Linked DNA regions of Homo sapiens. The protein of the gene in region 1 purifies or fractionates together with the protein of each later gene. This does not show direct contact. Each region holds a gene or a part of one and is shown on either strand. Other genes may lie near its edges.

Region 1 (15,856 bases):
CATTCGCCCTGCGGGGAGAAGAGGCAACAACGCGGGGTAGAGAGTGGACTTGCAACTGTGCTGGAAATCGGGGGACGACTTCATGCCCATGAGCTTTGTGCTGTAAACTTAGTCGTCCACCAGAACCTCCTTTTACACAGTTTTCCAGTTGTGGCTGGGTACACAGCAGATCGGCTAGGTCAGAGACTGTTCTTTCTGGCTTCCCTTGCCGCTAGGTGTGGCCAAATATGACTAAGTCCTCACCTCCGGACTGGAAACAGAAGTGATGCAAACCACCTCTGGATCTAACTCTTGCACACTCTTTCCATCCTTCCTGTGAGCCGGGACAGCACAAATGGGCCTGCAACCCAGCTAAGAAGAGAGGACTGGACCAGCGCCCCAGGGGAGGAGGGAACATCAAGGCGGGAGAATCTGGAATAAGAGTTGTCGATACTCACCTACATCCCTCACCTTGGGACTATTGCACAAGAGAAAAATTTGGCTTAAAACTATTCTAGTTTGGGGTCTCTTTGTTATAGCTGCCAGCCTGTACCTTAATGATGTTAAGTACCTTGGGGGACCACGCACTGCTCTCCTGCTGTCACTCAAGCCACATAGCAATGTTATGAGCAGGCAGTGTGACCCCATTTGATGGCCCAGGAAGTTGGTCACAGCAGTGAAGTGACTCGCCTGAGCTCACATACATAGGAGGCGGTACCAGGGTCTCTTAGATACTGTTGGCTATTTTGTAACTTTGTTGTTTACCACCCCTCATTCATTTAGCTAACAGAAATGTATGGAGGGCCCACTTTGTGCCAGGCATGGTTCTAACCCCGGGCATTCTGTGACTAGACAAACAGATATCGTTTCTGATGGCTTGAAGGCTGGTGGGGCAGAGAGGGTTCCTGAATCCCCAAGACAGCCCTTGGGATGTGTGATTGCTGCCATCGACATGCGGGATTCTAGCTCAGCAGTTCCAGCTGGGCGGGGGCCGTTCTGAGTTCTGTATTTTGTTCTTCCTCCCCAGTAGTTCAGGGTAGTTCCACCAGTCCTTCTGCCACTCAAAGTGTGGACCTTGAGCCAAAAGCATCAGCCTCCCCGAGGAGCTTGTTAGAAACACAGCATCTCAGGCCCCACCCCATCCCACGGAATCATATTCTGCAGTTAACAAGGTCTCCAGGTGACTCATGCAAACTGAAGTTTGACAGGCACTGTTCTAGTGTGTGGTTCTCAAGCTTGGCTGCATGTTGGAATCACCTGGGGGTTCCTTGAAACATTCTGTTGCTTGGGCAGGGTCCTCCCAAGATTCTAATTTAATTAATGTAGGTTTGAGCTGCACAGTAGAATTTTCCAGAACCCCCATGGATAATTCAAATGTGGAGCCAGGGTAGAAAACTTTGCTATACATATTTACACACACACACACACACACACACACACACACACACAGATATGTATATTTGATGGATGAATGGATGAATGGCCAAAGCAACTTCTCTGTGTAAAAGGCAAGGTGTTGACAACCACAGTTTTCTCTGGATTAAAATGCTCTGAAATGGAAAAAGAAATTATTTCCAGTGTCCACAGAAATCATAAATTGAAATGTTCTTTATGCCTGGCTGCTGGAGAAAGAGAAAGAGACTGAACCACGACAGTCTCTATTTGCCTGTCCAGGGCAGGGCACCTTTCTGGCTGGACTTCTGTGTGGACTATTGCAGGGGTGGGAGTCAGAGGCAGCACTGCCAAGGGGTGGAGTCCAGAGTGTTCCAGCCTCTTCTTTGGAAACTGAAGCACAGAGAGGGTCAGTGGCCAGTGCGAAGCCACACAGCAAGTTTTTAGCAAGATTGGAGAATCAGGAACTTTCTGTGCCCTACCAGCCTTCAAGCCCCCCAGAAACCATGTCTGCTTGTCTAGTTACAATACTCTCAGAGCCTAGCGCAGTTTCAAATCCCATCTCTTCCACTTACTTGGGCAAATCACTTGTCTCCTCTGGACTTTCAGTTGTCTAACCTCTGGAGGGCTGTCATGATGAATGGAAATTATGCACATAAAGCCATTAACAGGACCGTGCACCTAGCAGGCACAGGATGCGCTGTAGCCATTTTAACCGAACTATACATTGGTCATGGACCACAGTCTCCTGGTCAGTGTAAGGGTAGCAATACCTTCTTCCTGTTGCTGGATATTACAGGAAGATGAGGGGATTCTCCAGCCCACCGAGAGGTCTTTGCCATGACTGCCCAGGGTTTGCTTCAGGATCCTGAAGGGCTCAGAAGTTTTGGGTTCTGATTCCCCAGCCCTGCTACAAACTTGCTGTGTGACTTTGCAGCGGCCACTGGCCCTCTCTGTGCTTCAGTTTCCAATGCAGAGTTTGGAACAGAATTGGTATTTCTGAAAGCTGATTTGGAAACCCTGGCACCAGAAGCCCCCAGGGTGCTTGTTGTAAATGCAGATTCTTGGGCCCCCATCACAAAATCCAAACCTTAGGGTGGGGCCCGGGAATCTACATTTTGGTAACTCCCCCCATTCACTCTGAGGCACCTGGAAGGTTTTCAGACTCTGAGCTAGATTCTGCCTACAAGGCCTCTCTCTTTGCAGACATCCTGGGAGTTTCTCCCTAGGCTTAAAATACTTATAGCCTGGGAATAACTTTTCCATACTGATGACCCGATAGCTCAGGAAGGTGACTCCTGAGAGGCCGAGAAGGCGCTGCCAGGTCCTCCTCCTGCCTGTGGGGCTGGCATTTGGACACTCAAGCCATGCACACCGGCTCCTGCCCTCCCACGGCCTGGCCCTCTGGCCACCTCTCTGGACTGCAGCAAGGGCTCTGCTCTGCCGCGTCACTGCACCTGCATCAGGCTCTGCTGTGCATCCTAAATCCAGCCTCCCAGCACTGGTTCCTCAGAAATGCTGGCATTGGGGCAGGGGGTGTTTATGGAGTGTGGGCAGAGGAAATAACTCCCAGCTTAGCAAACATTCGAAGAAAAGAAAAAAAGGGGAAAGAAGGAAAGAAAAAAGTTTTCCTTTCTCCCTTTGTGGAAGTTCTGTGCTTAAACCCAGAAAGTTCCGGGTCCTAGGAACCCCCTGGGCCCTGGGCACACCGGGATGGTTGGTCACCCTATTCCTAGCCCTTGCCACAGGCAGAGCGAGGTGTGTTCTGGCTCCTTCCTGCAATGAAGAAGAGCAAGCGTCAGCCTGGAGAAGGCCCAGGGTGTGAATGGTGAAACAACACCGATGAATCCCACAGGCATGATGTGGAGCAAAGCAAGCCGGGTGTGTGTTTCCACTTGTGGGAAGCTCGAGAACAGGCAGCCTCATCTAGGGTGCACAAAGTGATCAGAACAGTGGCTGCCTCTGGGTAGTGTAGGGATGGCCTGTGAAGGGCCACGAGGGAGCTTTCTGGGGTCACAGAAATATTCTATACTCACAGGGGAGAGGCTGACACGGGTGCATCCGTTTATTAAATTCTACACCTAGGATTTGTGCATTTCAGTGTATGTACATTTCACCTGTAAAACTGTAGAAGAAAAATAGTAACAAATGATTATAAGTGATCTGAGGTGGAGAGGGGATGGAAAGAGAGGAAACAAGAATGGCAGAATATTGGCTGGGCACAATGGCTCACGCCTGTAATCCCAGCACTTTGGGAGGGCAAGGTGGGTGGATCACCTGAGGTCAGGAGTTCGAGACCAGCCTGACCAATATGGTGAAACCTTGTCGCTACTAAAAATACAAAAATTAGCCAGGCATGGTGACACATGCCTGTAATCCCAGCTACTTGGCGGGCTGAGGCAGGAGAATGGCTTGGACCTGGTAGGCGGAGGTTGCAGTGAGCCGAGATTGCACCACTGCACTGCAGCCTGGGCGATAGAGCGAGACTCCGTCTCAAAGACAAACATACACAAAAGCGGCAGAATATTGACCATTGTGTGTAGCTAAGTCATGGAGTCATGGTTTCCCAGAAGTTCCTTATATTATTCTATTTACCTTGTAAATGTCTGAAGTTCTCCATGATGAAAAGTTAAAAAAAAAAAGGATAATCAAAAGCACAATAAGACACAAATTGACATCCACTAGGATGGCTAAAATCATAAAGACAGACAATAGCCAAGTGTCGGTGAGATTGTGGAGAAACTGGAACCCATCACTACTGGTGGGGATGTAAAATGGGGCAGCGGCAGTGGAAACAGTTTGGCAGGTCCTCAAAAGGTTAAACAGAATTACCATGCAACCCAGCTGTTCCACTCCTAGGTGTATAGCTCAGACAAATGAAAACACATGTCCACACAAAAACTTGTACACAGGCCGGGTGTGGTGGCTCACGCCTGTAATCCTGGCACTTTGGGAAGCCGAGGCGGGTGGATCACCTGGGGTCAGGAGTTTAAAACCAGCCTGGCCAACATGGTAAAACCCCATCTCTACTAAAAATACAAAAATTAGCCAGGCATGGTGGCAGGTGCCTGTGATCCTAGCTACTCGGGAGGCTGAGGCAGGAGAATCACTTGAACTCAGGAGGTGGAGGTTGCAGGGAGCCAAGCTTGTGCCACTGCACTGCAGCCTGGGCGACAGAGCTAGAATCTGTCTCAGAAAAAAACAAAACAAAACAAAACCCAAAAAAACTTGTACACAAAAGTCCATGGTAGTATTATTCATAATAGCCCCAAAGTAGAGACAACTTAAACATCCATAAACTGATGAGTGAATACATAAAATGCGGCCTATTCATACAATGGAATAGTAGTCAGCCATGAAAAGGAATGAAGGGCTAAATCGTGCTACAACATGGATGCACCCTGAAAACACGATGCTGAGTGAAAAGAAGCCAGACACAGACACGACATGTTGGATGATTCCACTTATGTGAGATGTCCAGAGCAGGCAAATCCACAGAGACAGAAAGCAGAGGGGTGGGTGTCCGGGGCTGGATGGAGGAGGAGGGTAGCAGTGATGGCTGCACAGCTCCACGATGATACTAAAGACCACCGAATTGTGCACTTTAAAAGGGCCAATATTGTGGTATGGGAGTTATCGTCGGAGTCTGAGCTGGCTGAACACTCCTGGGGGAGGCAGGAAGTGGAAGTAGTGGGGGTCCCACAGCCTGGCCCTCACCTGTTTCACGCAGCAGCAGAGCGGGGCTTCCTGAGGGCAAAGCTGCTGCCCTGGGGGCCCTGCAGATGCAATGCAGGCCAGTTCTGGAAGCTCCATCTGGGAGGGGCTCAGGGCCCACAGTCTTGACCTTGGAGACTTCCTCGCCCCCTCTGTCCCTCCCAGCAAAATGCTGCCAGCCCCACTTCAGAACGTGGCCACCTCTCACTTCTGCAGCTCCTTAGTCAGGGCTGGTCCATTCTGCAGCTCGGCATCCCTCCCTCCCCTCCCTCCTGCTGTGAGTTCACCATTTGTGCCTTTGGCCCTGGCCCGAGGCCCTGAGCTGTTTCCTCTGAGGCTCTCCTGGGGCCTGGATGTGCTGACTCACTCCTCTGCCCACTCCTTTAGCCACTTTTCTCTCGGCCAGCCGTGCCCTCCGCTACCCTCCCCTCCTTTACTCCGCTCCCATGGGCCTCCCCCCAGGCACTACTCACCCCGAGCCGCAATCCCTCCTCCCCAGGTCTCCCCGCCACCCCCCCGCCCACTCCTTCTAGCAGCTGTCCCCACTTCCCAACCCTGGGACACAAGGGCTCTGAGAGTGCTGGAACCAACCGGACGGGGTCAGCCCCACCATGGGACCTGGCCGATGAGTCATCTCTCTGAAGGCGTCTTCCCTTCTGTGAAGTGGGGAAGGTAACTGTCATCCCACAGGGCGATTGTGGGCACCCGGGAGACCCGCTGAGGGATGCTGCAGTGTAGAAGCTTCCCAAATCTACGCTGCTTCTCTTCCTCCTCAGTCCTCTCCCGCTGCTGCCCTCCGGTTCATGCCCTGTGGCTGATCCATCACCGGCTCTCCACGGCCTTCACCTTGGGCGGGTTGGATGGCTGACTTCTCTTCTAGAGGTTCCAGCAAATTCTTACTAGAAAGCAGCTGCCACTGGGCTGGGCATGGTGGCTCACGCCTGTAATCCCAGCACTTCGGGAGGCTGAAGTGGGCAGATCACTTGAGGCAAGGGAGTTTGAGACCAGCCTGGCCAGTGTGTGGAAACCCTGTCTCTACTAAAAACACAAAAATTAGCCTGGCGTGGTGGTGCACACCTGTAATCCGTTACTCGGGAGGCTGAGGCATGAGAATCACTTGAACCCAGGAGGTTGGAGGAGAGCCGAGATTGTACCATTGCACTCCAGCCTGGGCAACAGAGCAAGACCCTGTCTCAAAAAAAAAAGAAAAAAAAAAAGCAGCTGCCACTGAGGGAGCATTACTAGCTTAGCTGCTGTCAGGCAAGTTGCATAACTTCTTGAGACCCAGTTTTCTGATCTGTAGAATGGGATTGTGGTGAGGATTAAATTAGGAAACAGGGAAATGACTAGCACAGGGCCAGGAGCCCAGCAGGGGTCTAAGAAGTATCCACTGACTCTGAATCTCACAGCGGTTCTCCCCGTGTGGGGAAGGCGGGCCGCCATCCCATCGCCTCTGTGCTGGTGTCCCGTCAGCAGTCACCGAAGGAGAGACCTAGGGACTCTCCCAGTGTCCAGCACAGGCCCGGCCTGCAGGGGCCCTTCCTGAACGACTCATGAATGAGTGTGGGTGGTGGCGTCTGCATGGGGCATTTGCGGGGGGCTGGAGTTGGACCTGCAGAGGTGGGGGGACTGTGAGGAGGCAGAGGAAACAGTGTCACCTGCAGAGCATCAAGGAGGCCCCAGGCCAGGAAACAGGGAATATTGCTTCTTGGCTGGGACATAGGGAGAGACACAGCTGCAGGAAAAAAACAAAAGCAACAAAACTAGGATAAGAAGCATTCGCTAGAGCAATTACCAAATGCCACCAAGCACAGAGAAGCTCCAGAGAGCAGGCCAGTTTTTTAGGAAGCTGATTCATGGTCCGAGAAAGGGACAGATGAGGAGGCAGGAGCTGGCTCTTGTACAGGGCCTCTTACTAAAGGGTGAGGAGGCAGGGAGGTGGAAATGGCACCCCAAAAGGTGAGCTGCATCCCGGGGAGGAGGCCCCAAGAGTCCCGCCTGGTCTTTGAAAAATCTCTCTCTGTGGGCCAGGCATAGTGGCTCAGGCCTATAATCCCAGCACTTTGGGAGGCGAAGGCTAGTGGATCACCTGAGGTCAGGAGTTCGAAACCAGCCTGGCCAACATGGCGAAACCCCGTCTCTACTAAAAATACAAAAATTAGCTGGGCATGGTGGTGGGCGCCTGTAGTTCCAGCTACTCGGGAGGCTGAGGCAGGAGAATCGCTTGAACTCAGGAGGCAGACGTTGCAGTAAGTTGATATCGCGCCACTGCACTCCAGCCTGGGTGACAGTGAGACTTCATCTCAAAAAAAAAAAAAAAAAAAAAAAGCCAGGCATGGTGGTGGGCGCCTGTAGTCGCAGCTACTCAGGAGGCTGAGGCAGGAGAATGGCGTGAACCCGGGGGGCAGAGCTTACAGTGAGCCAAGATCGCACCACTGCACTCCAGCCTGGGTGACAGAGCAAGACTCCGTCTCAAAATAAACAAACAAAGAAAACTCTCTCTGTGCCTTCCTTCCCCTGCCCTCCACCTTAGTAAGACACTGAAATGTCTACAGTCCAGGATGAGAGGGAAGGCGAGGACCAAAGAGCCCGTGCAGTTCTGCTCCCTAAGCCCACCATGGTTCTGCAGAGACATCACCAAGGGCACCTTACTTGGTTGCCATAGGGTGTGCATGTCCCTCTGACAATATCCCTGAAAGCCCCAGGCAATGCTGTGGGGCAGGCGTAGCACCCAAGATGGGAGGAGAACAGTGGGAAGGCCGGCAGGGCTGGTCCTGCGCGTGGCGAGTTCGCCTGCTTCTCCCACCGGGTCTCCAGCCAGAGCAGGCTCTCAGAAAAGACGCGCTGACAGCCGGAGCAGAGGAGGAATGAGGGCAGACACTGGAAGGGGATGGAGAGGACATTTGAGCCACCGGCCCCTGACTTGGCCATTGCTATTAGGTTGGAGGGAGCCAGGGATGGAGGCTGGTGAGCAGAGCAGCAGAGCAGGTCCAGGGGTGTGAGCCCAGCCCCAAGGGGGAGCAGAACAACAAGCGTCCACTCTGTGCTGGCCCCTGATATACAGGTTCTCGTTCAGTCCTCAGCACCGCCCTCTGAATAGTGTTATGATTGTCCTCTTTGCTGGGTGAGGAAATAGAGGCACAGAGAAAGAAAAGGACTTGTCCAAGGGCAGAGCCAGGGAGTGGGAGAGCTGGGACTCAACCCAGGACGAGCAAACTAAAGATGCTGGCCCTTACCCTGACCTGATACTATCTGCAGTGGTTGGGATGTCTTAGTAGCAGGAAAGAGGAAGAAAGACAGTCCACTGCAGGTGGCCAGTGGTGTTCAGGCTGCCAGGAGGGAGGGAAAGGCAGAGCTGCCCGGCCAGGGCTGAGGCCACATGGAGAGGGTGCGAGGGATGCATGGCAGGGAGGACAATGAAGGCAGAGGGAAAGGAAGAACCTGGGAAACTGCAGCAAACAGACCAGGACATGAGGCTGCAGGTGCCCAGGGCTGGAAGGGCACTAGGGACCAGTCAGCCTGTAAAATGACAAGTCCAGACCATCATTTTACCAGCAGAAGGTTGAGGTCCAGGGGTAGACGTGACCTGCCCTGGATCTCCCAGTGCATTCAAGTGAGAGTCGGGGTCGGGCGTGGTGGCTCAAGCTTGTAATCTCAGCACTTTGGGAGGCAGAGGAGGGCGGATCACCTGAGGTCAGGAGTTCGAGACCAGACTGGGCAAAATGGTGAAACCTCATCTCTACTAAAAATACAAAAATGTGCTGGGGATGGTGTTGGGTGCCTATAATCCCAGCTACGTGGGAGGCTGAGGCAGGAGAATTGTTTGAACCCGGGAGGAGGAGGTTGCAGTGAGCTGAGATCACACCACTGCACTCCAACCTGGGTAACAAAAGCAAAACTCCATCTCAAAAAAAAAAAAAAAAAAAGAGTCAGGACTAGATCTCGAATCCTGCCTATTGAAAGGGGTCTGTATGGCAGCCATGGGAACAGAATCTTGGCTTCATGTCTCAAATCCATCTTGTTCCTTGGAGGTGGGGGTCGGTCTTTGGAACGTGTCTTTCTATCTTCAGCTATCAACATGGAGCAGGCCATCAGTGCTAGATGGATAAACCAATAGTGGCATATACATACAGTGGAATAGTATTCGGCCATGAAGAGGAATGAAGGTCTGACGCATGGCACAGTGCATGGACCTTGAAGACATGATGCTGGAGCAGGAAGCCAGTCACAGAAGACCACACCTGGCACGATTCTGTTTCTATGAAATGTCCAGAATAGGCTAATTCATGGAGATAGAAAGCAGATGGGTGATTGCCAGGGGCTGGTGGGAGAGGAAGGAGGAGAGACTGCCTAGTTGGGACAGGGTTTTCTTTTGGAATGCTGAGAAAAAGCTTTGGAACTAGACAGAGGTGATGGTGGCTGCAGAAGATTGTGATTGTACTAAATGCCACTAAATTGTTCCCTTTAAGTTGCTCAATTTCATGTTATGTAAATGTCAACTCAGAAAAATGAAGCAGGGGGCTGGGGTGCAGTGACTCACGCCTATAATCCCAACGCTTTGGGAGGCCGAGGTGGGAGACTCACTTGAGCTCAGGAGTTCGAGACCAGCCTGGCCCACATGGTGAAACCCATCTCTACAAAATGTACAAAAATTAGCCAGGCGTGATGATGCCTGCCTGTGGTCCCAGCTGCTCAGGAGGCTGAGGCGGGAGGATTGCTTGAACCTGTGAGTCAGAGGCTGCAGTGAGCTGAGATTGTGCCACTGTACTCCAGCCTGGGGGACAGAGTGAAACCCTATCAAAAAAAAAAAAAAAAAAAATAGAGCAGGGCTGCTCAGAATCTAAGCTCCAAGGAAATCAGAAATTTGTCTTCTCTCCAGCACCCAGAAGAATGGACTTTAGTAGGCAGTCAATGACTGTTGTTGAAGGATGGTAAAGGATGAATGTTTGGTTTCCTGTTAACTACTACTGAATGAATGAATGAATGAATGAATGATGATCAGTATGACGGACTTTCGCTGAGCACCTCCGTGTTTCGGCCTGTCCCAGCTGCTTTATGCACCACATGACCCCTTGAGGGAAGTGCTTAGAGCACCCCCATTTCATAGAGGAGGAAACTGAGGCTCAAGGAGGTTAAGTGACTTTCCCAAGATCACTGGGTTAGTCATGGGTGAGGCCAAGATTGAAACCCAGGACATCTGGCCTTCGCACCATCATGCTGGCCTGAGAGCTGTTTTACAAAGTCTGGCTGCCTTAGAAGCACAAAATGGCCCTGAGGCTGAGGTTCTAGACTAGAGGCGAAGTGGCCCAGAATTGAAAGTTAGGGCTGGGCACGGTGGTTCATGCTTGTAATCCTGGCAGTTTGAGAGGCCAAGGCAGGCAGATCGCTTGAACTCAGGAGTTTGAGACCAGCCTGGGCAACATGGGGAAACCCTGTCTTTACAAAAAATACAAAAAATTAGCTGGGTGTGGTGACACCCACCTGTAGTCCCAGCTACCTGGGGGGTTGAGGTGGGAGGATCACTTGAGCCCAGGAGATGCAGGCTGTAGTGAGCTGCCAAGATCATGCCACTGCACACTAGCTTGGTGATAAAGTGAGATCCTGTCTCAAATTTAAAAAAAGAAAGAGAGAGAGAAAGAAAGAGAAGGAAAGAAGGGAAGAAAAATAAAACGAGGGTAGGAAGAAAGAAAACAAAAGAAAAGGAAAGGAAAGAAAGATGGTATCAGTGTTGTGTAGTCATAGGGGGTCGGATTTTAGAGCCAATCAGAGGTGAGTTCAAATCTTAGCTCTGCCTTACTGTGAGCTTAAGAAAGTGATAAAACCTCTCTGAGCCTCGGTTTCCTCATCTGTAAAATGGGGGTAGAAGTGGTATTCACTTCCCTATGCTGCCACAGGGATGAAATCAGTCCACGGTGTGAAATGCCAGCCTCACGAGCGGCACTTAGGAGGCATCGGTTCTTTCATCCTTTTGGGGAAGAGTCCCCCCTGGGAAATCCGGAACTTTAAAATCCGGTGCCCCTTAGAAGAGCTCAGGTGCTGGCTTGGTCCTTCCTGTCTACACTGCCTCTTCCCTTCTCCACTGTAATTTTTTTTGAGATGGAGTTTTGCTCTTGTTGCCCAGGCTGGAGTGCAGTGGCACAATCTTGGCTCACTGCAACCTCCACCTCCGGGTTCAAGCGATTCTCCTGCCTCAGCCTCCCAAGTAGCTGGGATTACAGGCACAAGCCACCACACCTGGCTAATTTTTTTTTGTTTTTTTTTAGTAGAGATGGAGTTTTACCGTGTTGGCCAGGCTGATCTCAAACTCCTGACCTCAGGAGATCCACCCACCTCGGCTTCCCAGAGTGCTGAGCTTACAGGCGTGAGCCACTGCACCCAGCCTCCATTGTAATTTGCAATCTCTGGCACAGACCTTTTACCCCACTATCAGGTTTATGCCAACGGACGTTGCTATGAGAAGGTAGAAAAACAGAAACTGCTTACAGCAAATGTCCATCCATTGTTTCTGTTTCTGATGGAAGAGTTCTGTGGGTTATAGCCCTGGGATCTGTTCCCCCACCCATCGTGACATTAATTCTTCAGCGTGGATGGTATCAGGGTCAATTTACAGGACACTGGCCCCAAACTCAATGGGCACTGCCTGTCCCCAGAAGCAGCTGGTCCCTCTCAGATTGACATTCCCTGAGGGCAAATAAGGAATACAAAGCACGTGTGTCCAGGAAGAGGACATCATCCTTTTACGTAAATGTAAGGTCACCGTCTTGGGAGAACAAAGACTGCCCCGTCCTCAGCCTCCCTGCTCTCTGAATTATTATCTAAACGGAAACACAGACACTCTCTGGGCAGCACCTCAGCCTGTCTCTGGGCACACACACAAAGATGCTTTCACTAAGGAGAAAGCATAAAGATATTGTGGCTGGGCCCGGGCATAAATCTCTCTTGTCCCAGGAGGAGACGTGGCTGCCTGATCCTCGGCTGAAACTTTGGCTGCGCAGGTCTGCGGGCCCACCTCTCCCCTCTAATTTGATTTCCTGAGTCACTGTTAAGCCAGGCCTGGGTTCATACCCTGCGTAATTTTCAAAGCATTAGGTTTTGAAAAGATCTTGGCCGTCTGCGCAACCGAAATCCTGGCTCCTACACAATTTCTCCCTTCTCTGGAAATCTGTAAGAGGAACAGGCTTGTGAGCATCCAGGGGCCTTTCTTTATTAACTGGGATCAGGGCACCCTTAAGAAATGGGGTAGGGAGGTCACTTGTTTTGTCTTAATCTTTGTACTGCAGAGTCCACACATAAATATTTCTGTGAACAAGCAGGCTCTTAAATCTCATGTTTTTATGCTGTAGAATGAAAAAATGCCTATGATTGGCATTGTCATCTTCTCCATGGGAAAACAAGCTGTTTAAAGGTCCAAATATTTTGTGGGTTTTTTTAGGGCCAAACTTTTGTAGGTTGGACAAGACACATTTTATTCAACCCATATTTACTGGGATCCTACTGTCTGTGAGGCATGGGCTGGTTCTCCATTTAAGTCTTTTCTATCTGGCAAGTTCTCTGATCCTGTTGTCTTGCCCTGGGACATATCTTTAAGCGAAGAGAACTTAGGTGGGCTGGCAACTGTTAGGAGCCAAATAGAGCAAGCACCATCTTACGTATGTGTTTAGTTTCTCTCTCTGTTGATTACAAGGCAAGCTCCAAACATTAAGATGATGGGCAGCCCTGGGGGAGCTCGGTGCTGGAGAGGAGTGATTTTTTAAATCAGGAAACAATCTAATTCTCTGTTTGAAGCTTTCCAATAACCCTCTCAACCAAATGCTAGGTTCTTATTTCACTTCTCAGACCATCTGGCTCCCGAGTGGAGGGAGGGTGTCTCGGGGTCTCCTGTAACTCCCTGCAAAGGGGACGAAGGTGTGGGCAAGCAGCACTTTTTACTCTGGCCTCCTGGGGCAGAGTGACTTACAGATCAGCTCATCTGTGAGTTTCCCATCCAGTGAGACTGGCCCAGACACTGAGCACTGCAGGGAAACTGAGGCCGGGGACCTTTGCATCATTGGCATCCTTACTGTGGAGCTCCGAGGAAAATAAATGGCCCATGCCTCAGTTTCCTCATCTGAAAATGGAGTGGGGATGCCCAGGAGAATGTTAGCTCAAGAAGGCAGGGATTTTATGTTTTTGACCTGCTCTAGGGCTTAGCACAGAGTGGTGTTCAGTAAACACATGTTGAGTTCACTGGGTGAGTAAACCTTCGAGGTGATGTTACCCATTTCACGGAGTGGGAGACAGGCTCAGAGAGGAGGTGGCGTGATTTGCCTGTAGTCACAGACTCGGGAGAGCTGGGAGAGGTGACACTGTGTCTGTGTGGCCCACTGAGTCCACGCATGGCTGAGGGCCACGTAATGATTTTCACGGTGAGCCTTAGGCACTTTTGCCTTTGCAGGACTCCAATAAAAAAAAAAAAGATGGAAAATTATCTTTTATGACTGATGGCCTAATAATGAATATAACCCATGTTGGATAATATTCATTTTTTTCTTCTTATTTTAAGATCTGAAGACATTTTCTTGGGCCCCTAAAAGACATCTCCGCCCAGGCACCCTGCGGGATGGAGCCGTGAATGCCATCAGAGGCCGCTCACCTGGTCCTCCTCTGCCCTGAGGTCGGGCATGGTGCTGACACACAGGCTGACGGCTGTGGTGGCCACGAAGAGGATGGAGAGGCAAGCGAAGACCTTCCCGGGCAGCCCGGACTGCGGGTTTTCCACCATCTCGCGCAGCCGGTTCATGCACAGGCCCCAGCGCGAGGAGTGCGAGGCGGGGCGGCGGGTCTCCCTCTGCTGCCTCAGTACGTCCTCCCTGTGCAGCTTGGCCAGCTCCTCCAGCTCCTCCAGCTTCCTCAGCAGCTTCCGCAGGCAGCACCTCTCCAGGTGGGCCTCCTCGATGCCCCAGTAGGCCAGCTCCTCCTGGAAGGACAGCGCGCACATCTCCTGCAGAAGCACCAGCTTCCCGGCCGCCAGGAAGCTCACGATCACCCCGAAGGCGCTGGGGCTCCTGTCGAAGAAGAACTCCTGGCTGTCCTCGTCGTAATCATCGCAGAGCTGCACGATCTCCTCGTAGCTCCGACAGAGCCTGAGTTTGCTCAGGCGGCTCAGCGGGAACCGGTCCAGTGTGCTCCAGGGGAGGAGATACCTCCTGCCCCCCACGTTGATCAGGATCTCCTTCTTCAGGTCCACTGGGGAGGCGTCCAGGGCACCCACCTTCCGCACCCTCCGGTAGTAAAGGCCCTTGATGGACGGCGTCTCCATGGGGCTGGACAGGAGCTGACTCCAAGGGCTGTGGGAACCATAGTGGTGGTGTCTGGGATGCAGGCCCCCGTCTCTGGAAGGCATGGGCATTGCTGAAGACCACCAGGTAGGAAGCGCTGGGTTTACCAGTCTGACACCCAAGGGACAAAGAGCAAGCAAAAGGAAGGGAAATCAGTCTTGGGGCAAAGAGTCCTGGATGTCACGACTGCAGATGTTCTTACGTGTGCTTTCCTGTGACTGCATCTGCATGGCTTGTTCTTTTAACCTTTAGTTCAACACATATTTATTGAGCACCTACTATGTGCTTGGGATACATCAGTGAAAAAAACCCTTCCCTGGTGGAACCTCTACCGACATCTCAGAAGGATGTCTCCAGAATAGACGTTGCACGGATGGGGGCTTGAGTAATTCAGTCCTGAGCTGGACAAGTCGGAGCGGTGCCACTTCTGGGCTCTGTGGTCTCAGGTATGTGGCTTAACCTCTCTGATCTCAGCATCATTCATTCAAATGACAAGACTCATACTAATCTTGCAAGGTACAGGTAGTAAAAATAGAGCTTAAGAATGTAGGCTCTCAGGTTCACTGGCAGGGACCGATCCCTTACAGACTGCCAGCACAGGTGGGTTACTCAGTGTCTCTGAGTCCTTTGCTTTATCTGTATGACTGGGGCAGTCTGAGTGCCCACATCGTAGGGCATGGCAAGGGTTATATGCAGTAATATACAAGAAAGTGTGTATTAATAATACTTCTAGATGCTTCTGACATGCCTGGCTTCCCCTAACTCACCTCAACAACCTCATGAAGTAGACATAAGAGCTCCACTTTATAGATAAGGAGGCTGACGCACGGAAGGTTTGCGTGTCTTGCCTACTGTTTAGCAAGCACCTGACATCAGGAAGGTTCAGCGAGGGTCTGTTATTAAAGGTTCGAGTAGCCCAGGAATGTGACTATGCTTAGCGAGCATCCAAGCATCTAGGTCTCAGGAGGAACTCCACCAGTCTCGCTTAATCCCTCTTGGTCGCTTCCCCATTTGGGGAGGCCTTTGCTAAGGGGACGGAGGAGCATTGCGTACTTGCAATCACAGTACTCCTCCATGTTCGTTGCGTGCTTGCCTCAGCCATCCTTGCTGTGTGACCTCCAGCCAGTTACTCCCCCTCTCTGGGCCCGCAGGCTTTTATGTGCAGAATGAAGGGGCCTCCAGCCGCAGTGGTTCATGCCTGTAATCCCAGCACTTTGCGAGGCAGAGGCAGGCAGATCATCTGAGGTCAGGAGTTCGAGACCAGCCTGGCCAATGAAACCCTGTATCTACTAAAAATACAAAAATTAGCTAGGCAAGGTGGCATGTACCTGTAGTCCCAGCTACTCGGGAGGCTGAGGCAGGAGAATCGCTTGAACCCGGGAGGCGGAGGCTGCAGTAAGCCGAGATTGCGCCATTGCACTCCAGCCTGGACAACAGAGCGAGACTCCATCTCA
Region 2 (15,916 bases), on another chromosome or scaffold:
ACTCTTCCCAGATACAAATAAGCAATCCAGGAGGTCTGTGGGGGCACAGCATGCTGGTCCTCCGCATTGCCCAGGTCCTGGCTCCTGACTGTAAGTCAAGACAGCACCTCAGTGAGAAAAGGGGAGGATCCCGGTTCACCCTGTCAAACGCCACCCTAACCCTAAAGTGGCATGCTAAAGAGAGGCAAAGGAGAATGCAAACCACCACTGAATGGCTGTTCCTTTAGAGAGCAAAACAATAATCACAGAGGCTGGAATCCACTTTTAGCTTTTATAATCTGATGCACATGACAAACAACACAAGTAGAACTGGGGACTCCCAGGTTGGCTACCCTATTTCAGTTTGATTATTTATCAGATATTTAGAACTTTCCCTCTTTTTTAGACTTTAAGTTCTAGGGTACATGTGCACAATGTGCAGGTTTTTTACATATGTTTACATGTGCCATGTTGGTTTGCTGCAGCCATTAACTCATCATTTACATTGGGTATTTCTCCTAATGCTATCCCTCCCCCACACCCCCACCCCATGACAGGCCCCAGTGTGTGATGTTCCCCGCCCTGTGTCCAAGTGTTCTCATTGTTCAATTGGCTCTCTGTTGGTCTGTTATCGGTGTATAGGAATTCTTGTGATTTTTTCACGTGGATTTTGTATCCTGAGGCTTTGCTGAACTTGCTTATCACCTTAAGGAGATTTTTGGCTGAGACGATGGGGTTTTCTAAATATACAATCATGCCATCTGCAAACAGGGACAATTTGACTTCCTCTTTTCCTAATTGAATACCCTTTATTTCCTTCTCCTGCCTGATTGCCCTGGCCAGAACTTCCAACACTGTGTTGAATAGGAGTGGTGAGAGAGGGCATCCCTGTCTTGCACCAGTTTTCAAAGGGAATGCTTCCAGTTTTTGCCCATTCAGTATGATATTGGCTGTGGGTTTGTCATAAATAGCTCTTATTATTTTGAGATATATTCCATCAATACCTAGTTTATTGAGACTTTTTAGCATGAAGCACTGTTGAATTTTGTCAAAGGCCTTTTCTGCATCTATTGAGATAATCATGTGGTTTTTGTCTTTGGTTCTGTTTATATGCTGGATTACATTTATTGATTTGCATATATTGAACCAGCCTTGCATCCCAGGGATCAAGCCCACTTGATCTTGTTGGATAAGCTTTTTGATGTGCTGCTGGATTCGGTTTGCCAGTATTTTATTGAGGATTTTCACATCGATGTTCATCAAGGATATTGGTCTAAAATTCTCCTTTTTTTGTTGTGTCTCTGCCAGGCTTTGGTATCAGGATGATGCTGGCCTCATAAAGTGAGTTAGGCAGGATTCCCTCTTTTTCTATTGATTGGAATAGTTTCAAAAGGAATGGTACCAGCTCCTCTTTGTGCCACTGGTAGAATTCAACTGTGAATCTGTCTGGTCCTGGACTTTTTTGGTTAGTAGGCTATTAATTATTGCCTCAATTTCAGAGCCTGTTATTGGTCTATTCAGCAATTCAGCTTCTTCCTGGTTTAGTCTTGGGAGGGTGTATGCGTCCAGGAATGTATCTATTTCTTCTAGATTTTCTAATTTATTTGCATAGAGCTGTTTATAGTATTCTCTGATGGTAGTTTGTATTTCTGTGGGATTGGTGGTGATATTCCCTTTATCATTTTTTATTGGGTCTATTGATTCTTCTCTCTTTTCTTCTTTATTAGTCTACTAGTGGTCTATCAATTTTGTTGATCTTTTCAGAAAAAACAGCTCCTGGATTCATTGATTTTTTAAAGGGTTTTTTGCGTCTCTGTCTCCTTCAGTTCTGCTCTGATCTTAGTTACTTCTTGTCTTCTGCTGGCTTTTGAACTTGTTTGCTCTTGCTTCTCTAGTTCTTTTAATTGTGATGTTAGGGTGTCGATTTTAGATCTTTCCTGCTTTCTCTTGTGAGCATTCGGTGCTATAAATTTCTCTCTACACACTGCTTTAAATGTGTCCCAGAGATTCTGGTACGTTGTGTCTTTGTTCTCATTGGCTTAAAAGAACATCTTCATTTTTTACTTCATTTTATTATTTACCCAGTAGTCATTTAGGAGCAGGTTGTTCAGTTTCCATGTAGATGTGTGTAGGGAAAAGAAAGAGAGATCAGACTGTTACTGTGTCTATGTAGAAAGAAGTAGACATAAGAGACTCCATTTTGTTCTGTAATAAGAAAAATTCTTCTACCTTGAGATGCTGTTAATCTGTAACCCTACCCCCAACCCTGTGCTGGCAGAAACAAGTGCTGTGTTGATTCAAGGTTTAACGGATTTAGGGCTAGGTAGGACGTGCTTTGTTAAACAAATGCTTGAAGGCAGCATGCTTGTTAAAAGTCATCACCACTCCCTAATCTCAAGTACACAGGGACACAAATCACTGCAGGAGGCCACAGGAACCTCTTCCTAGGAAAGCCAGGTATTGTCCAAGGTTTCTCCCCATATGAAAGTCTGAAATATGGCCTCGTGGGAAGGGAAAGACCTGACCATCCCCCAACCCCACACCTGTAAAGGGTCTGTGCTGAGGAGGATTAGTAAAAGAGGAAGGCCTCTTTGCAGTTGAGATAAGAGGAAGGCATCTGTCTCCTGCTACTCCCTAGGCAATGGAATATCTGCTTGTAAAACCCAATTGAATGTTCCATCTACTGAGATAGGAGAAAACCACCTTCAGGCTGGAGGTGAGATATGTTGCTGGCAATACTGCTCTTTAATGCACCAGATATGTTTATGTATGTGCACATCAAAGCACAGCACATTTTCTAACCTTGTTTATGACACAGAGACATTTGTTCACATGTTTTCCTGCTGACCATCTCCCCACTATTACACTATTGTCCTGCCACAACCCCCTCTCTGAGATGGTAGAGATAATGATCAATAAATACTGAGGGAACGGAGAGACCTGTGCCAGCGTGGGTCCTCCCTATGCTGAGCACTTGTCCCCTGGGCCCACTTTTCTTTCTCTATACTTTGTCTCTGTGTCTCTTTCTTTTCTCAGTCTCTCATCCCACCCAATGAGAAATGCCCACAGGTGTGGAGCAGCTGGCCACCCTTTCATCTGGTGCCCAACGTGGGTGCTTTCCTCTAGGGTGAAGGTACGCTCAAGCGTGGTCACTGAGGACAAGTTGATGAGAGATTCCCGAGTACGTCTACAGTCAGCCTTGTGGTAAGCTCGAAAGAAGCCAGGGTAACAATGGGGCAAACTAAAGTAAATATGCCTCTTATCTCAGCTCTATTAAAATTTTTGTAAAAAGTGGGGGAGTTAGTGTTTCTACAAAAAATCAAATCACGCTATTTCAAACAATAGAACGATTCTGCCCATGGTTTCTAGAACAGGGAACTTTAGATCTAAAAGATTGGAGAAAAATTGGAAAACAATTAAAACAAGCAAGTAGGGAGGGTAAAATCATCTCACTTACAGTATGGAATGATTGGGTCATTATTAAAGTAGCTTTGGAACGGTTTCAAACAGAATTACTAAGCAGAGACATCAAAGGTAGGAGGTTCTAGATAAACTGACCTAACAATATTGTTGCTAAAGCCAGGACAAAGCCTTAGACATCAAAGGAAAGAAGAACTTGGTCAGATGTTGAGGGTGATCAGATACCAAGGGTGGGGGGGAGCCTTTCTAAACTGACTTAGCAGGATTCTTTCCTAAAACTGGGCCATGAAGCCCTCGCAAGAACAGGAGGTCCAGGGCTGGGGACTAGGGTTGAGGACCAGGGCAGAGGAAGGCTCAGAGGAGCCTAACAAGGGTTTGGTCAAGGTGAGTCTTGTCACTGGATCCAGCTCTTCTGTGACAGGAGGAAAGGGCAGGCAGGGCCACAGGAGGGAGCAGGGCTGTCCTGATGGCCTCTGGCTCCAGCTCCAACACTCAGTGATTGAGTTGAACAGGATTCCAAGCAGGAAGAGGAACCAATCTCCACAGTCACTGCATTTTGCTAAAGGAATTGATATTTAAGGTTACACAAACAGTGACAGGGAAGTCCCAGCAGTGACCCAAACAGGATAAGAAAGTCTGACCACCCAGAGATGTCAAGGAGATGACTCACCTCCTCAGAGTCATCTGTTTTCCTCATGGCCAGGCCTCTGCAGGCTGTAGCCCAGGGAGTCAGATGGATCCCTGGCTGCAGCAGCCAGCAGCCCGAGTTCCGGAGGCCGCCCCTACTCCCCTCCATTCATATGTGGTTCTTCAGTCAGTGAATCTGCACTGACAAATGCTCTTTTTGATTTTTGAAAAATAAATGTTAACTTGTACTCCAGAGCCAGGAATACCATTCATGTGCTGGTCCCTGAGAGAAAGGATTCTCTTTCTCCCCACGGAGTGCAAAACAATCAGACCTGACACTGGGCTCTGCCCTCTCTTGCCTTTCCCAGCCGGGGCTGCCAGCAGGCTTCCCCATGAGTATCAGTTTCCTAATGATGTGGAAAAGCCAAATGTGGTACCAACATGGGCCCATAGTTTAGAAGCATCCACATGTCCTAACAGAGCCAAATGTGTTACCAACATGGGCCCATAATTTAGAAGCATCCACGTGTCCACGATGTGTGAGGAGAGGGAGAAAAGAAGGAAGGATGGAGTGTGAAAGAGATGAGCTTGACCCCAGAGAATTCCAGGCACTCCATAAAGGAGGCTCCTGGGCTTCCCATTTGAGAAGCCACCAAATCCTGTGGCTGTTCAGTCCCAGCTCCTACCATAGACCAAACTGTTAGTTGCTCAAAACCCAGTTGTGCAGAATCTCAACTCTTGGCCAGCTTGTCCTCACCACTTGCACTTTTACATGATGCTTTCTGCGCTTGGTCATTTATTATGGTATTGTTTAGTGTTCACTTATTATTGGTCATTTATTGCAGAGAACTTCTGCCACTCACCTAATTTCTCATCCTACTAATTCAGATAATCAGATCAGTTCACCTGTGCAGCCTAGGGGAACACAGCTTTCTCTTTTGTCACCTAGCAGAAGGAAAACATGCCCCCTCCTGGGCAGCTGGACTCCTCTAGGTTACATGGGTGCTGGAGGCCCCAAGCTTGTTCCTCAGTCCATGGTTGCTATCTGGCCCTCTTCTAGTGTGTCCTTAAAACTGTGGACTATAGAAATCAGGGAACAAAGTGTTCTGCCATTTTTTTTAGATGGGTGTTTCACTGTGTTGCACAGGCTGAAACTGAACTTCTAGACTCAAGGAATCTTCCTGACTCACTCTCCTAATAAGCTAGGATTACAGGTGCAGTACCACACCTGGCTACTCCATCATTTTTAACCATGTTGATACATCACTGCTGAAGTCTGCTCATCTCTGCTGGTCTTAACTCCCAGATACTATGCTTTAGAAAGTAGCCTCTTTCTCCAGATGCATGACAGACACACCATTTGCCTAAGGTCATCAAACATCTGGAGCAGCTGGCCAGCTACCTCAACCTGCTACTTCCTATCACTCCATACTGGACATCGCACTTGTACCTCCTCCTAAGAGCAATGTACACTGGTATTTTTCCTACTGGGATTAGAGAGCTTGCTGCATCAGAACAGCTGACCCTCCCTGCAGTGCATGCCAGTGCCCAGACAGAAGATGACCACTGGTGGTGTCATCACATACAGGGCACAGGTCAGCACTCTGGCCTCCCTCCCTCATACTCCACCCACCAGCACATTCTCGCTATTTGGGTTACCTGCATCTCCTTTCCAATGATTAAAACAAAACAAAACAAACAAACAAAAACAAACAAAAAAACAAGAGGATTGCTTGACCTTCAGTTTACCCTCTGCACAGCATGTCTTCCTGAGCCTGGACTCCCAGCTGTCCCAGGAAGGTGGGAGCCACAGAGGAGAACTAACTCCTACCCTTTGGAGATGACCATTCTGCTCCCAAACACCTGGTAAGGGACTTCCTTCTCTTTCCCTTCTTTGGAAATCTCTCCCCATTTCCTGTCTAACTAGGAGGCATATGTGCAGCTTTGTTTGAAGACCTTCCCTCCTTCACCCAGCAGTAAACACCTTCGGTACACCTGCTGTATCTGCCGGGCTGCACGGCTATTCTAGGGGTGCTGGATTCACAGTGGGGTGAGATGGTCACCAGGCCTCAGGTAACAAGGTTCCCTGTACTAATACTGAACATGAGCACCCATGAGTAATATGGTTCCCAATGCCGGGTTCCTGCTGATCCAGCCCCAGCCATGTCCCAGCCCAGGATGACTCTTGGCCAGCTTGTCCTCATCACTTGCACCTTTATGTGATGGTTTCTGCACTTGGTCATTTGTTTATTATAGTATTGTTTAGTGTTCTAAACAGGTCTGGGCTGACACTGGCCAACGCTCACCTCCACCACTCCTGGGAGAGTCCTCTGGGTGTCCTGCTAAGGTCCAGGGTTTCCTGTAGCTTCTGGCCAAGCCTGCCACCTCCCCATAAGGGCATTTGCCACAGGGTCACCTTCAGGCATGGAGGGTGGGGTTGAGAGAACAAAGGGAGCAGCTGTCTGTTCAGAGCCTCCTTCCACCCTCTCCTCTCCTGGAGTCACATTCCAGCCCAGGCCCACAGCATCCCGAGCTGGGGGCTTTGTCAGCCCATAGGACACCCAACTGACCAAATCCTCTCAGTCTGCGGAGAAGGAGAACTCACAATCCTGGCAATGAAGCAACTCGGGGGCCGCCGGAAAGCCACACTGGGCAAAGGACAAAGACACACATGGGCTCGCTCTGCAGGACTCCATTCCTGGGAAGCTCAAGGACAGGCGACCAAGGAGTCTATGGGGCCGGATGGGGACTGCCAAGGTGGGGTGGGCACGAGGGTGGCTGGAAAGGCAGGAAGATACTGTCTGGGGCAAGGCAGATGTCACAGGTCTGGATAAAGTGGTAACACAAGTGTATGCATTTATGAAACACCCCAGATTGAGCACATACTATTAGGCATTTTATTGTATGCAAATTCTACCTCATTTAAGGCAATTTTTAAAATATCAGGTGAGTCTTCCAAGCAGTGAACAGAGGAAAGGAGCCTGAAGCATGGCTGCCTAGGACAGAAGCAAGAGAGACCTGTGGGTTCCCACATTCATCCCGTGGCTGCTGCTCCCTTTCCTGACACCCCCACTGCCTCACAGGGGTCTCCGTGCACCTTCCACCGGGCCCCACCCACATTTACTGTGAGACTCCAGGTCGTTCCCTTCCCTCCTCATACCCCCTCCAGGAGCTTCCACTTTCTGGAGCAGGCATGTCCCAACCCCACCTCAGGGCCTTTGCACTGGCTGTTCCCCACTGCCTGGGGCTTCTCAACCTCTCCAGTCTCATAGAGACCACCCTGACCAGGGTCCAGTGGTCTCTCTCTAGCCCCTGTTCTATTTCACTTCCAAAAGAGTGAGCATAACTCCCTGACCCTAATTTTTGATCGTAACCTACCATCCCCTACACACATTGTGTAGGAATGGACTATGGAGTTCCATAGAACCAGCCACATGTGCCACAGGATACTTGAAATGGGGCCAGTCCAAAATTACTTCTGGTCTAAGTGTTAAAAATACACAGGGAATTTCAAAGATTTACAAAACCAAAAAAAAAAAAAACAAAAAAAAAAAAAACATAAACGATCTCATTAATAATTGTTCCCATTAGCTGAAATCACATTGTGGCTATATAAGGTTAAATAAATATTTTAAACATTACTTTCACCCATTTATTCTCATCTTTTAAAATGCATCTACTAGAAATTTTCAATTGCTCGTGAGTTCGTGTCACATGTCTGTTGGGCAGCAGCTCTGCAATGTCACCTCTATGGCTCATCATCCAGGTTCCGTCTTCAAGCCCTAGACCTCCTGGCACGGGGAGTAGCTGGTGATAGGTTTGCTTATTGAATAATGAATTATGAAAAGAGAATCCAGTGACCTTTTCCAAAAAGGTTAATTCCCTTAAATTTGGCAAAGAAATTCTCCACATTAGGGTATGGACAGGGTCTTCTGGAACTTTCTGAAATAATCTCCCTGTTCCAGAGATTCAGAGACTGTGACCAAGTGCTCCTGGATGCCCCTGATATCTGAAGACCCTGGGAGGCCAAGCCCTGTATTTTTCCCCTTTCTGAGCAAACAGGAAGTCACATAGCTTTCACAGTCAAAGGACCAGTGTCACCTCTGTGGAGACCTGGGTGACTCAAGCTTGGGAGCACTGGGGAAGAGAGGCATGGCTCGGGGAGGCTGCAGTGAGGACTGGAGTGGGGAGGAGGGGGAGATGGAGGAGGAGGCCTGGGAGGGGCAGGGGGAACTTAGGCAGGGAGGGAGCTTGTAGTAGCGGGGGAGTGAAAAGAGAGATGGAGAAAGAGGGGATGGGAAGAAAGAGGAGGAGGAGTCAGGGGTGGGGCATGGAGGTGGGTGGGGCTGGGCTGCCAAAGCAGGATAAATGCACACCTGCCTGCTGGTCTGGGCTCCCTGCCTCGGGCTCTCACCCTCCTCTCCTGCAGCTCCAGCTTTGTGCTCTGCCTCTGAGGAGACCATGGCCCAGTATCTGAGTACCCTGCTGCTCCTGCTGGCCACCCTAGCTGTGGCCCTGGCCTGGAGCCCCAAGGAGGAGGATAGGATAATCCCGGGTGGCATCTATAACGCAGACCTCAATGATGAGTGGGTACAGCGTGCCCTTCACTTCGCCATCAGCGAGTATAACAAGGCCACCAAAGATGACTACTACAGACGTCCGCTGCGGGTACTAAGAGCCAGGCAACAGGTAGGTGCTCCCTCCACCCCAGGGGTCCTGGGTCCCAGCCTGGTTTGTTCCCCAACCCCCAAGAGCATTCCCAGCAAATCAACACTGATACATTCATGATCTAATGCTCAGATTCATTCAGCTTTCCCTGGCTCTCCGCTGATGCCCTTCATGCCTAAGCACGCTCCCCGGCCGTGCACAAACTCAGCTTCCTTTAACCTGCAGCAGCCACTGTGTCTGTACCATGACTGTGGCATTTCCCAGGGTCCAGCAGGTGTGGATGGAGACTGTGCTTACTCTGGGTGGGCTTGATGCTGCTCAGGATGAGATCCAGGCCATGAGGTTCATACTCCTCCCTGAGTCCTCTCTGCAGGGGCCACACAGGAACCTGGCTCACTGTTCTGCAGAGCCCTGCTTCCCCAAGTCACGCCCCTGGGCACAGCCCCTTATGGCTAGCGGCCTTCACCCTCAGGCCGGCTGACAAACCCCTACAGCCCAGGGCGCTGAGTCCCTGCTGGGGTGGAGCATGCCTGACCCTGCCTCTACCAGCTGATGCAGTTAGACCTCAGCCAGATGAGGACAGTGGTCACCCAGCAGAGCAGAGGAGGGGTCAGGTCGGGAGGGAGCTTCAGCAGGGCAACTGGGCCCAGCTTGACCTGCATCCCATGGCACAGCAGCAAATAGTGACACAGTCTTTAGAGCTCCTCCACCTTCTCCTGGAAATTCAAAGGAATCCCCACCAGCCCCGTTTCTCCTCTTGCAGCTGTCAGCTGGGGCTCTCTCCCTGCATACGAGATACACTCCCTGGTGCCGTGGTCCCCGCTGGCCTGCATCTCCCTTTCAAGCATGACAGTAACTTGGAGTGAAGCACAGGGCATTGCAGACCATCAGGCCCAGAAGCCTATTTTAGACATGGGTAAACTGACACTCGAGGGATCTCAGCAGTTCCTCCTGGTTCCAGAGAGTCCCTCATCCCAGGTTTCTCCACAGCTCTGCCACATTGTGTCTGGGAAAGGCCCTATGCAGGGAAAGGGTTCAATTCTAATCTGCAACTGTAAGACACGCAGGTGTGCTGCTGACTTGAGAAATGTATCTTGAATCTCACACTTGAAATGGTGGCATCCGGGCGGCCCCATTGATCCAAAATATCTGTGTGTGTGAAGCATCTCATTTCCTACTCTGAGTGAAGTAATAAATCTATGTTAAATGGAGGGAATAAGATTTTCAGAAGTTAGGTGAAATTTTGTCATCAGACAGACTTCCTAGAAAAGAGTCAGTGTTCCCTCGCCCCTGAGCCACAGACAGCAGAATTCAATGAATCCTTTTACCCAGCACAGAGAAAGCAATGTTTAAGAGCGGGTATGAGGCTCAGCACCCTGCCAGTTGACAGGAAGAGGGGGCTTGTGTGCCTTGTGTTGACATGTGGGCAGCTCACGAAGCCCCCAAGCAAGTCCAGTGACTCAGCCACAGTGAAGTGCCTGTGAGTGCATGAACTGATGGGGGCGCTGTCCTGTTTTCTCCTGTGTGCAGACCGTTGGGGGGGTGAATTACTTCTTCGACGTAGAGGTGGGCCGCACCATATGTACCAAGTCCCAGCCCAACTTGGACACCTGTGCCTTCCATGAACAGCCAGAACTGCAGAAGGTACGTTCCTGATGCAGGTCCCGGGCCAGTCATGCACTGCAGAGGGGTGCGTATGTGTCAGCCTCTGCCCTACACATGTTTGGAGGGTGTGTGTGTGCAGGTGGGTATGTGGGGAGCCGTGTATGCATGGATGTGTACGTGTTCATGTACTTATGGGGGGGTGTGCATGTAGGTGTGCATGTGGAAAGGTGCACGTGTGTACACACCTGTGCCAGTGTGTGCAGGGAGGTGGATGGGAGCATGTGTGCCTGTGCATGGATGTGTGGGGGGTGTATGGGGCTTTGTACATAGATCCATGGGGATGAGGGGTCCAAGTGAGTTTACGTAGTTGTCCATGTATGTGCAGATGGGGTGGTGAGGGAGGAGGGTGATGTGTTTGATTTGCTAGGAAGGCTTTAGGTTGGGAATGGTTACTATAAGGTCAATTCTGCCTGCTTTGGAGTGTTGCCTGTTGGACAGGAAGAAGCAGCTGTGCGGCTGTGTGCTGGGCAGGGAGAAGGGGCTCTGTCTAATCCCAGCCTCAGGCACCTGCATGCAGCCACAGCCACAGTGATCAGATTAGTGGGACCTAGAGGCCTGTTAGCTGGGAAGCCCTGGACCTGCCCGGCTCACCCAACACCAGCCTCTCCAAGGACCTGCTGGTTCTTGTGAGGTCTCCACTCAGGGGAGAGCCACACTCCCCTTGTTGCCCTTGCCCCATGCCCCAGCTCTTTGAGGGGGAGTTGCCCTGCCCTGGGTTCTTCCCTCTGGCCCCTCTTAGTGCTGGCCTGGGTGCTGGAGGTGGAAGGAGCTGGGGGAACTGAGCTGCCTCCCCATGCCCTGCACCCTTGGGGCTCCCGAGGCCTTGCCCAGGCTACTCCTCACAGGGCTGTGCTGGGACAGGACACTGCAGGCTGGGGTGGGGTCCCAATGCCACCTGGTGACTTGGAGCCTTGGGAGGGGCAATGGAACAGTCACTATTCATTCTAGTTCAGCACTCTGGGACTCAGTAGGGGTGGGTGAGGGCCCAGTGTCTCACCTCCATCCTCCTCACCCAGGCTCTGACATCTCATGCCTGGGCATCTTCCCCTTTAACTGTAACCCACACTGATTGGCCCTCTCTCTTCCCTTTCACAGAAACAGTTGTGCTCTTTCGAGATCTACGAAGTTCCCTGGGAGAACAGAAGGTCCCTGGTGAAATCCAGGTGTCAAGAATCCTAGGGATCTGTGCCAGGCCATTCGCACCAGCCACCACCCACTCCCACCCCCTGTAGTGCTCCCACCCCTGGACTGGTGGCCCCCACCCTGCGGGAGGCCTCCCCATGTGCCTGCGCCAAGAGACAGACAGAGAAGGCTGCAGGAGTCCTTTGTTGCTCAGCAGGGCGCTCTGCCCTCCCTCCTTCCTTCTTGCTTCTAATAGCCCTGGTACATGGTACACACCCCCCCACCTCCTGCAATTAAACAGTAGCATCGCCTCCCTCTGAGTTCTTGGCTGTCTGGGGATGTGCACGCAGGCGGGGTTTCTGCAGTTCCTTTATGAAGCCTCCTTGTCCTGCTGGTGTGGAGATCACAGGAGTACCTGGGAGCTGACGCAGCCACAGCAAGGCCATCAGGGGAGCTGCTGCCACTTTCAGAGACCTGAGCTTCAGAACAGGGAGAGAGCAGCCAGGGACTGGGAACCCAGGCCTTCAGCTGCAGCAGCCCCTGGTGAGGGGGTCAGGGAGAGGAGGGGGCCCAGGCAGCTGCCCCAGAAGCTAGGCTGCTGTTTTGGTCTGAGCTGCTGGTCAGACCACGAGGAGGGGGCTGGCTGTGTCCACAGGCAGGGGCCAGGCCTCAGTGGAGCTCGCCAGGCCATAGAGTCCATCTGTGCTTGCAGAGTGGAGCAGACTCCAGGGACTGAGCTGCTCTCATCAAATCCCCTAGACACTAAATAGACAGCGATCAACGTGTAGTTCTTTCCACAGGAGACTTTAGGCACCTACATGGAAACAAAGTCCAAAAGTGTGTGTGTGTGTGTGTGTGTGTGTGTGTGTGTATAACTTATTGGGAAAAATGCCACCCAGACCAAAGACAGGCAAGATCACCCAGAGAAAGCAACGCCTGCTCTCATCCATCCTGGGAGGGTGTGCCCCAGGCTGGGAGGTTGTCTCCTATGCTAGGAAGCTGTGCCCTAGAAAAGTTTTACACGTTCACACCCAGCCGCCCTTTCTCTGGACTTGAATTTAAAATGAGCACTCAGGTCAGCCTTCTTGGCAGGGATGGAGAAGCTAAAACACAAATGAAAGTGACATGCAGTGGACACTCGATTTTTTCACAAAGGATGTTTTAATTAATAAATAACATCACCTAAGTGTCAAAACCATTCTGTAGAATAGTGGGTAGTTGCGCTCTAAAGAAGAGGCTACAGTCCTAAGACAACGCCCACCCTGCACGGCCCTTCCCTTTGCCATTTCAGGGCAGGGGGTGCAGCCCTCAGGGCAGGTGCCTCTGGGGAAGGGCTCTCAACTATCTTCCATGCCTAGATCTGCGTTGACCAAGAGTGGCTGCCATGAACACCGAGGGGAAAATGACAAAGGGGAAACTGTTGAAACAGCCCTGAGGCCAGCACCCCATGTGCCGCACATAGAAAGCCAGGAGGAGTATGGTCTGGCAGGGAGAGTGGGGAGCACCTGTTTCATTTCCTCTCCACCCCTATGGGATGTAACCAAGGTTTTACGTTGAAGAAAGTGAAGCAGCACCCAGGAGGCCATGAACTGGGGAGATTTGAGTCTGGGCCTCACCCGGTGTCAGGGGGTGGGGGCTGCACACACTGATTCAGGCTTCTGTTGGAAGACAGGGGCTGAGAGCAGAGGAGCATGTGCCCAGGAATCATGGTTAGGGGCAGAGTCTTCCCTGCATGGAGATCCTCATGGTTCTCTACCTGGGGAAAGTCTGTCTTGACATAAGCAACCACCATCCAAGGACACAAGGAACAGACAATTTTGTGTAAACCAGTAACTTTTCTGACATCTCTCTTCCTGGGGAAGTGGAGGGGGACGTCTGGCTCTGTAGAGGGCTCCCTCAACCATCTCCTTGTGTGTCTGTTCCCTAGGAGGGGAGCAGGGGGCAGGGAGGCTTTAAGGTGAGCATGTGGACCTTCATCTTCTGGACCAAGCTGAGGGTCTGGGCCCTGTCCGGAAGCCACCCGGTTTTTGGGAGTAAAGGAGGATACTGAGGGTCATGTTTTGGAAATATTGCACCCCTTCTAAGAGTTCCTTTAGCAAAAATAATGTCACACATTCTTACTAAAAGCCTAAAACCGCTGAGGTTAGAAACTCCACCTTCAGCATAGACAAATCACTCTGAAAGGAGGGATAAGTCCATTGGAGGCCTGGGAAGCGGGAACCAGAGCGGTCATTCCTTGGGCAGGTGGATTCTCAGCACTATGACCACTGGCAATCCAGGTTCCGTGAGGTCTGAGGCTTACATAATTCAGAGGGTTATCTACATGAAAAATAGCATAATATAAACTATTTGAAACTAAACACAGAAGTTAGTGTTTATTTAAGAAAAGGAAATAAGTCACAACAAATTACTCACTTTAAAATGCTGAAAAATGCTACAGTCATCCCAAATTCCAGAAACTAATATACATCCTAGTGCATTCAGTCACCAAAACTGATTTTGCAGTTAACAGACTCAGGATTATTGGCTTGTAGCAAAAAGGGAATAAATTCACATTAAGAAACCTGGGATGACTAAAAAAACAAAGCAAAGAGGTTATTATAAGACTGTGGGGAGGGATTCTTGAGGCTGTAGTGATGGACTCACAACGTAGCAGTCCTAAGTGTAAAGCAGCCAGTGTCAAGTCTGGTCTGCAAAGTGGACCCAGGTCCTCTGTCCTTAGAACCCATGAAGTCCAGCCAGATGTGAATGTTCCATCCAGAAACCCCTTCTCTGTAGCTCTGTGCTTCTGTGTAAAGGTGGACCTAGATCCTCCAGGCAGTGTGATGTTGTACTTACTCAAAAGCAAAGTTTCTGACAGCCCCTGATGCTGGAGAGCAAGGTCTTCCTTTGAGTCAGAAAGCAGTTGTCACCCAAGGAAGAGGCTGTTTGACATTTCGAAGCTGCAGCTTGAGAGAAGCATTGTTTCCTGCTCATGATGTCAGTGGCTTTGTCCTCATAAGTCCATCCATCCACCCTGCAGATGAAAGGGCAGATTTGCCCTTCCTTAATTTGTGTTCTTTTTACATGCTAACATAGCATTTTTATTAACTACTTGACTCAACAGTGTAACAAGTTATTTCTATGTTTTCATACTCAACTATTGAGTAACTATTTGCTTCATCACATGACATTGATTTTATAATAGAATTTTCCATAAATATAGCAGAAAGATAAACCAGTCTTTCCACTAAGTTTGATCACTTTAAAATTCTGATAAATAATACAATCATCCAAAATTATGAAATACTACAATCAATCCTACTTGTGAAAATCATGGATTATAACATTTTCTTTCTGCTTCAAAGCTCATATAGGTAATACTATGCAAATTTGTCTGATTGTTGTCTAATTTGGAAAAGCTTCCAGTTTTCTTTCATGTGAGCGCTAAGATTTTAGTACTTTCTAAATTTTCTTGACTTAAGATTGATGATCTTAAAGACTCTATCAATAATGCTCACTAAACACAGCATTTTAAAACTCTGACTGTTGTAGTGGGCTTCAAAATTGTGCAAATGTATAGCTATATACTATATTGATTACCTCATGGAATGCACAGAGTTTGTCCTGAAAGAAATATTTCTTCAAGCCATCTTACTGTTGGTCAATGTTGTGTCTCTGTTGTTTGGAGCTTGCAATTTCATCAGGATAACAGGAGGTTGAAGGCCAAGTCTGATCCATCAGTTCTGTGCCACCTCACAGGCATACATCCTTGCTGTGGGTAGTTTCACTACGCAGATCTGCACCCTACAAACATGAAAAATCAAGAAATTCTATCTCATTAAATTCCCATAAAAAATACAAAAACTTGGGTCTCACTTGGGTAAAATTAAAAACAAAATAACATAAAATAAAAACAAACTGCCTGGTGTGCTATTGTACATACCATATTAGTGAGTACATTTTCATGACACTAACCTATTTTCAGCGTTCTTAAAGACAATAGATTCCAACCAAGAATGTCCTATCCCATCCAACTAAGCTTCATAAGCAAAGAAGAAAAACAATCTTTTCCAGACAAGCAGTTACTGAGAAAATTTGTTACCACTAGACCAGCCTTAAGAGATGCTTAAGGGAGTTCTAAACATGGAAATAAGAGAACAATACCTACTGTTGCAAAAATACAGTTAAATATAGTTCAAAGACAGTATATAGCAACAATACAATACATACTGCAAGGAAACCAGTTGTCACCTTCATGGTAGGATCAAAAACTCACATATAAATATTAACCTTGGGCCAGGCACAGTGGCTCAAGCCTGTAATCCCAGCACTTTGGGAGGCCGAGACGGCCGGATCATGAAGTCAGGGGTTCGAGACCAGTCTGGCCATCATGGTGAAACCCTGTCTCTATTAAAAATACAAAAAATTAGCTGGGCATGGTGGTGCACACCTG

What was found.
Region 2: the proteins of KCNG4 (region 1) and CST1 purify together in Homo sapiens (affinity purification with mass spectrometry; 2 studies listed by BioGRID and IntAct, with this or other methods). This does not show direct contact.

Annotation. Positions count from the first base shown.
Region 1 is NC_000016.10:84,223,013-84,238,868, forward strand, and holds part of KCNG4 (voltage-gated potassium channel regulatory subunit KCNG4), read right to left. Parts: intron 14,514-15,856; 5' UTR 14,474-14,513; coding exon 13,718-14,473; intron 9-13,717; coding exon 1-8. UniProt on the Homo sapiens protein: Regulatory subunit of the voltage-gated potassium (Kv) channel which, when coassembled with KCNB1, modulates the kinetics parameters of the heterotetrameric channel namely the time course of activation, deactivation and inactivation and on the voltage-dependence of activation.
Region 2 is NC_000020.11:23,743,438-23,759,353, reverse strand, and holds CST1 (cystatin-SN precursor), read left to right. Parts: upstream 1-8,418; 5' UTR 8,419-8,487; coding exon 8,488-8,715; intron 8,716-10,224; coding exon 10,225-10,338; intron 10,339-11,454; coding exon 11,455-11,538; 3' UTR 11,539-11,792; downstream 11,793-15,916. UniProt on the Homo sapiens protein: Human saliva appears to contain several cysteine proteinase inhibitors that are immunologically related to cystatin S but that differ in their specificity due to amino acid sequence differences.